Homo sapiens: one gene and its partner. Changing the gene in region 1 together with any one later gene gives a genetic interaction. Each region holds a gene or a part of one and is shown in the gene's direction. Other genes may lie near its edges.

The links. Genes that interact genetically often act in the same process or in processes that back each other up.
Region 2: changes in PPP2R1A (region 1) and WDR7 together harm fitness more than expected from each alone (negative genetic interaction), as found in Homo sapiens cells (one large-scale study listed by BioGRID).

What each region holds. Positions count from the first base shown.
Region 1 is NC_000019.10:52,192,844-52,196,692, forward strand, and holds part of PPP2R1A (serine/threonine-protein phosphatase 2A 65 kDa regulatory subunit A alpha isoform), read left to right. Parts: intron 1-3,849. UniProt on the Homo sapiens protein: The PR65 subunit of protein phosphatase 2A serves as a scaffolding molecule to coordinate the assembly of the catalytic subunit and a variable regulatory B subunit.
Region 2 is NC_000018.10:56,657,854-56,661,702, forward strand, and holds part of WDR7 (WD repeat-containing protein 7), read left to right. Parts: intron 1-3,849.

The sequences.
Region 1 (3,849 bases):
CCCTAGGCATTCCACCCCCCAGGAACCGCGAGGTGTTCATCTGTCTGGAAGCTCCTATGGCTGCTTTTGTGCTACAGCCCAGAGTTGCATGGTTGTAACAGAGATGGCCGCAAAGCTTCAAATATTTGCTGTCTAACCCTTTGCAGGGAAAAAATTGCTGACCTCTGACTTAAACCATCTGCGTAACAAATTATTGGGTGCTTGCTCTATGTTAGGTACAGTACAGAGGAATATCACTGACGATCTTACTGAATTCTCACAATCACTCTTTGAAGTAGGTCCTGTCCTTGTCCACATTTTCCAGATGAGGAAACTGAAGCACCATAAATAACATGGCCAAAGCTGTGCAGCTGAGAAATGAAGGAGCCAGGAAAGGAAGTAGGACCTAAGGGTGGAATAGAATCTGGGGTGGGACACACGGTTGCTGATTATATTCATATGCCAGACATTTTAATTGTGTCTGAGACAGTTCAGGATACTAGAAGGAACATGGGACATGAAATCCTGTAGTCTTGATTTATTTGTTCAGCAAATATTTATCAGCACCTCCTGTGTGCCAGACTCTGTTTTAGATACTAGACATACAGTAGGGAACAAAACAGCAAAGCTGCCCTTGTGGGGTTTACATTCTGGTTTGGGAGACAGATAGTAGATCTGTAGTGGGATGTCAGTGGCAGTAATTGCTAAGAAGAAAAATTGCTGGACGTGGTGGCTCAAGCCTAATTGTAACACTTTGGTTTTATTTTATTTTATTTTTTTTGAGACAGAGTCTCACTCTGTCGTCCAGGCCGTCTCTGCTCATTGCAACCTCCGCCTCCCGGGTTCAAGTGATTCTCCTGCCTCAGCCTCCTGAGTGGCTAGGATTAGAGGCGCCCACCACCACATCCAGCTAATTTTTGTATTTTTAGTAGAGAGTGGGTTTCACCATGTTGGCCAGGCTGGTCTCAAACTCCCTGCCCGCCTCTGCCTCCCAAAGTGCTGGGATTACAGGCATGAGCCACCACCCCTGGCCAATTCTAGCACTTTGGAAGGCCAAGGTGAAAGGATCGCTTGAGCCCAGGAGTTTAAGACCAGCCTGGGCAACAAAGTGAGACCCTGTCTCTACCAAAAAAAAAAAAAAAATTAGCTGGTGTGATGACACAGGCCTTGGTCCCAGCTGCTCAGGAGACTGAGGTCGGAGGATTGCTTGAACCAGGGAGATCGAGGCTGCGGTGAGAGCCTGGGCGACAGCAAGACCCTGTCTCCAAAAAAAAAAAAAAAAAAAAAAAAGAACAAAATAAGACAGGTACAGGGAATAGAGCAAGCACCTGGGGCTGCTTTGTTAGATAGGGAGGTTAGAGAAAGCTGCTCTGAGGAAGTGATGTTGAACAAGGATTTGAATGAAATGAACAGGTCGTGGAAGAGCAGTCTGGGCAGAGGGAATAGTTGGTACAAAGGCCAGGAGTGGGAGGATGCTTGATGCGTTCAAAGCACAGCAAAAAGGCCAGTGTGACTGAGGCAGAGAGAATGGCAAAGTGGTGGGAGGTGAGGACTAGACCAGGACTAGATCAAGTGAGGCCTGTGGGCCAAGGTGAAGGCCTTGAAGATGGGAGGGAGGAGGAGGAATTGCAAGGCTTTCAGTAGTAATTATGGGTTCTGGTATAATTTTAAAGGATCCTTCCTCTGGCTGTCATAGGGGTTGGGCCCTGTTGAGGTGCCATTACAAAGCACCCAGGACCAGTGTTAGCATGCAGGGGGGAAGTATGGTTACAGTCAGGACATGTTGAGGGGGGCTGATGGGATTTGCTGGTGGGTAATGTAGAGGGAAGAGTTGAGGGTGACTGAAGTTTGAACCCCCGCTCTGCCAGTTGTGCTCTCTGTGTGCCCCTGGAGCAGTACTTTCCCCTCTTTGGACCCAGATTCCTCATCTGCAAAATGGGGATAATGATGAAGAATCAGCGTGTGCCTGGTTGTGAAGATGCAGTGAAATTGGCTTGCTCATTGTTCTGCGGTAGTCATATGGTGGGGATTGAGCAGACCTGAGGAAATGGGGCATCTGGGGAACCGTGTGGGACCAAGTCAGCAAGTGCTAAAGCCTGGGTTGGGAATACACTGGGCTGTTTGTTTTTTTGGTTACTATCAAGGAAGCAGTTGTGACAAGCCAGGCCCAGTGAGAATGGATCAGTAGACTAGGGTCAGATTGTGTTGGGCCTTGTAGGCCAGAGTAAGGCCTTAGCTTTTATTCTGAATGTGCAGGGAAAACATACTACATGTGGGATTATACCATATACATTCATATTATGGAAGGCTCCATGGGTTGAATGCAGGGTGGATCTTCAAAAGTGGGTCCCCTTTCCACAGGTGCATATAGTGGGAAGGCGGATTTTATTTATTAACTCACCACAGAGCAGGCTCTGTGCCGAGGCCTGCTGGGACACAGAGAGTCCCAGTCTAGGGTGGTAAGTGCTGTCATGGAACCATATGGGTGGACTCTTTGGAAAATCCCAATTCCTATTCTCTCACTTAACACAACAATCAACAACACAGAAGAAGACTTCCGTGACTAAATGTGTGTTGGGGTGGGGAGGGATTCTTCACCACCACTAAGCAAGCATTCAGTTCTGCAGCACACGCCAACTGGATGTCCTCCAATTCAGTTCAGACACGACCTGGAGACAGTGTTGGATCCAACAGGTTGAGGGCTCAGGCCTCAAAACTGCCCCTTGGCCCTCGCCTTCAGTTGCCATTCTGGGTCGTCAGAACTTCTGATCTACCTGCTTCAAGTTGGAGTTCCCATGACCACCCTGCCTTTGGGTTTGATTAATATGCTAGAGCAGCTCTCAGAACTCAGGGAAACATGTAAGTTTATCAGTTCATTATAAAGGATAGTATAAAGAATACAGATGAAGAGAGGCATAGGGTGAGCTATGGGGGAAGGGGTGTGGAGCTTCCATGCCCTTCTTGGGTGCACCACCCTCCAGGAACCTCTGTGTGTTCGGCTATGTTGAAGTTCCCAGGCCCTGTCCTTTTGGGTTTTTATAAAGGCATTGTTAGGTAGGCAGGATTGATTAAACCTGGTGATCACCTTGACCTTCAGCCCCTCTCCGATCCCTGGAGGTTGTGGGGTGGGACTGAAAATCCCAACCCTCTAATCATGCCTCTCTGTTTTCCATGACTATCTTTCCAGTGACCATGGACCCCATCCTGAAGGTATCAGTCAACATTAGCATACAAAAAGCGCCTTGGAGATTCCAAAGATTTGAGGAGTTGTATGCAAGGAAATGGGGATGAAGCCCAAATCTGTATCTCACAGTATCACAACTGTAGCAGGTGCTTGGTGGGGACACACTTGGGAGATAGTCAGTGCACAGGGAATTCTCAGGATATGACATGATCAATGGCCAGTCAAGGTTTCTGAAATGATATTAATAGATTTTCTATCAGGAATGTGACGGAGACCCCAACCTAGAGTTGTTTAAACAAGTAAGAGTTCTCTTTATTTCTCATATAGCAAGTTCAGCAGCTCAAAGCTATCACAGAATTGGGTCAGCTCAAAGATATCACAGAAATGCGGTTTTTTTGACTGGCCTGTTTTGGTTATAAGATTCCAGCAGCATCTGCTGTCCTAGTGGAACTGCACTTTTTAGTGCAGTTTAGCAGAGGCCAGCTTAGGACACAGAGGTTCTTTCCCTCCTCCCTTTTATGAAGGAGGAAAATCTCTCCTGAATCTCCTCAGCAGACTTGCTTGTATATCTCTTTGCCAAGAACTAGGTCATATGCAGAGTTAGTTGAAGTTAAGTTTGGCTGTAAGTAGTAGAAAAACTCTAAATAACAGGGGCTTAAATGAGCTTGAAGTTTCTATCTGACTGA
Region 2 (3,849 bases), on another chromosome or scaffold:
TTCATGAAGTATTTACTATTTTAAATAAAATTGGATTTTTTTTCAAACTATGTTGGTGACGTTTAATGAAATTACAGGGGTTTTTTTTTTTGGCTGTTGATTACTTGAGTTAGTGGGAGCCATAAAATGTTGGAACAACGAATGTTAGGGCACTGGTCAGTTTAGGGGAGGGAAGATTTCTGAAGTGCTAAGCGTTATTCTGTAGGCTCTTTAAAATATAACATTTCTGGAGATATGTGACTTTGTTTTTTTGTTTTGTTTTGTTTTTGACACAGAATCTCGCTCTGTCGCCCAGGCTAGAGTGCAGTGGTATGATCTCGGCTCACTGCAACCTCTGCCTCCCCGGTTCAAGCAATTTTTCTGCCTCAGCCTCCCAAGTAGCTGGGATTACAGGTGTGCACCACCACACCCAACTAATTTTTGTATTTTTATTAGAGACAGGGTTTCACCATGTTGGCCTGGCTGGTCTCAAACTCCTGACCTCAAGTGATCTGCCTGCCTCGGCCTCCCAAAGTACTGGAATTAGTCATGAGCCACTGCGCCCAGCCTGGAAATACATGACTTTGAAAATGCAGTCTCCCATTCAGCTTAGCAGTTGTAATTTATGACCCTACAAGCTCACTGAAGATAGTTTTTTGCACATCATGTTTCTCTCTGAATGTTGGTAGTTGGTATATGTCAGTGATAACAGACTGATAGAGTGAGCCAGTTACCTTCTGTTTTCACATTCAAGTTTATTTCACATTTAAGCTATCTTCCTTAAAGGCTCTTCTTTTTTCTAAATGTTTCAAATACAAATAAACAGTATAAACTTCCATTAGTTGGAGCAAAAAATTCACACGAATGAAATATCACTGTACTTACTTACTTTTTTTTAACGACAGAGTCTCACTCTGTTGCTCAGACTGGAGTGCAGTGGCATGATCTTGGCTCACTGCAACCTCCACTTCCTGGGTTCAAGCGATTCTCCTGCCCCAGCCTCCTGAGTAGCTGGGACTACAGGCGTGCACCACTGTGCCCAGCTAATTTTTGTATTTTTTTTTTAGTAGAGATGGGGTTTCACCATGTTGGCCAGGCTGGTCTTGAACTCCTGATCTTGTGATCTGCCAGCTTTGGCCTCCCAAAGTGCTGGGATTATAGGCTTGAGCCACCGCGCCCGGCCCCCTGTACTTACTTTTAAGAAACAGTGTTGTGATTAATTACTAGGCCTTAGTGACTGTAGTAGTGATTATGTCAGCTAATTTGCTTCATAGGCCCTAAGATATATTTTGCTGTGTATATGTCACGATAGACTAAAAGAGGCAGGAGCGTAGGTAAAACCTGTAGCTGGGGAAAAAAACAATATGTTAATGACATTTTGATTAAGGAGGCTTGTATTAATTGTTGACATTATTATAGAAGAACTAGTTGACAAGAAACTGCCCTGTGAAATCCAAAACATATAAAATCGGGATATACTTTAATTTGCTGATGGGTGCAACTTTACTTAAACCAACGCAAACATATTTCATTCACTAGTTTGTTTATTTATTCAAGTATTTGGATTCCTTCTATGTGGAAGGAATTTTAGGCACTGGGAATACAATAGAGAAGAAACCAAACACAGATCTTTACCATCATAGAACATACACCAGGAGAGGCAGATGATAAATAAATAAAACATATGGTATGTTAAATGATTGTAAGTGTTTAGTTTGAGTGGTAGATTTTGCAATTTATGATGGTCAGGAAACTCTTCACTAAAAAGGTAATATTTTATAGAGATTTGAAGAGGGCAAAGGAGTGTGCCAGAAGGAATCTGGGGTGGGGGACACTGTTCTGAGGTAAGATTCTGTTTAGTATCTTTGAGCAACACCAATGAATCAGAGCAGATGGAAAAGAGTAAGCAAGGGAGAGAACAACCACCTCACTCATATAGGATAGGCAGTTGTATGTAGAGTTGGCTTTTGCTATGTGTGAGACAGGAAGCCATTGGAAGATTTTGAGATGTGATCACAGCATGATTTTTTTTTTTAATAGTGTCACTCTATATGCTGTGTTGAGACTGCAGGGGAGCAAAGATGGAAACAGGGAGACCAGTTAGAGGGCTGTTGTGTTATCCCTGATGGAAGATGCTGATTGAGAATAGGGTGGTTGTAGTGAAAGTGTTGAGATGTTGCAGGATTCTGGATATGATTTGAAGGTATAGCCAGTGGAGTTTACTGATGGATTGGGATGTGGAATGTGTATGTGTGAGAGAGTAATAGAGTAACTAAAGATGATTCTAGGATTTTGGTCTGTGTAGCTATAAAACTGGAGTTGCCAATAACTAAGATGGGTAGACTGTGGGAGGGGCACCATTGAGGAATGATCAGGGGCTCACTTTTGGACATGCCAAGTTTGAGAAACTTATTAGCTATCCAAAAGGAGATGTTGAGTAGGAAGCTGGACATACTGATTTGGATTTCAGAAAAGCATCCCACACAATAAACTGGGGAACTGTCAAAATCTGCAATCCAAAATGCTCCAAAATCCAAAACTCTTGAGCATAAACATGACACTCCAAAGAAATGCTCATTGGAGCATTTTGCATTTTAGATTTTTCAGATTAGAGATGCTCAACCTGTAAGTATAATACAAATATCCCCAAATTTGAAAAAAATCCAAAATCTAAAACACTTCTGATCCCAAGTGTTTCAGATAAAGGATACTCAACCTATAGATGGTTTAAAGCAATGAGGCTTGATGAGATCATTGAGGGAGGGAGTGTTGCCAGAGAAGAGAAGTCTAAGGACTAAGTTGTGGGAATGCCAATATTTAAAGGTTAAAAAAAAAAAAAAAGAAAGAAAAGAAAGAAAGGAGACTAAAGCTAGAGAAGAAGAAGGAAAGTCAGGAAAAAGTGAAGACTTTGAGGCCAGGTAAAGAAGTATTTATTTCAAAGACGGAATATGAACTATGTCAAATTGCTGGTAGGTCAAGTAAGATAAGGGTTAGAACTTGATAATGGATTTAACAGTGGGGAGGTCATTGGTGACCTTGTCAAGGGCAGTTTTTGTGACAGGCAGAGCAGGAGGAGGGTAATGTTACAAATGAGAAGTTTAACTTGAGACATCACATATTTCCTCAGAGTTTAAAATGGAAATGGAGAGCTGGGTTCCTCTCTAGTTAGTGTGACTTTCATACCTTCACAGTTGCCCATCTTATTTTAGTGATTCCAAGACTAATGTGACAATTCAGCTTCAAATTTGGGGAAGCATGTTTGTTTCTTCTTTTTCTGTTTAATTCAATTTATATACAACGAGAAAGTTCAGTGCTCAGTTTAGACTTTTGATGGCAACCTAAGGGAAGAAATTGGAATGACTGGAGATGCAAATGAGATTAGAGGTGGGTGGCAGGAGAAAGTCGAAGTTGGTTCAACCAAATGGAATTTCCTTTAAAAAGTAAGGTCTTGGTGGGCATAATGGGCTTTTAGCTTAATCAGTAACTCTTGAAATTGCTGTAGGTTGGTGATGGATACAGCATAAGCAGAAGAGTTCATTCATTATAATATCACCTGCAGAAATTTAAAACATGATTTATATGCCTCAGCATCTATGAATCACTTTTAAAATGTGATTTATTTTTGACCAGATAGTTCTGCAGTTCTTCAAAATCTGTCTCTCATGCACTCAGGGCTGTTTAGCAATAAGAAATAAGTGTAGTCTCCTGTTGCCATCTGCTCATTCCACATGTTCCTTTGAAACCGAACACTGGGGCTTCCTTTAACCAAGCAGTCCTAAAGTGTCAGGCTCATTGAGAGTACAGTATATTTCTTAACCACCCAAATAAGAAAGTATAATCTTGTCAGCTGCTTAAGTGTTCAGAAGGTTG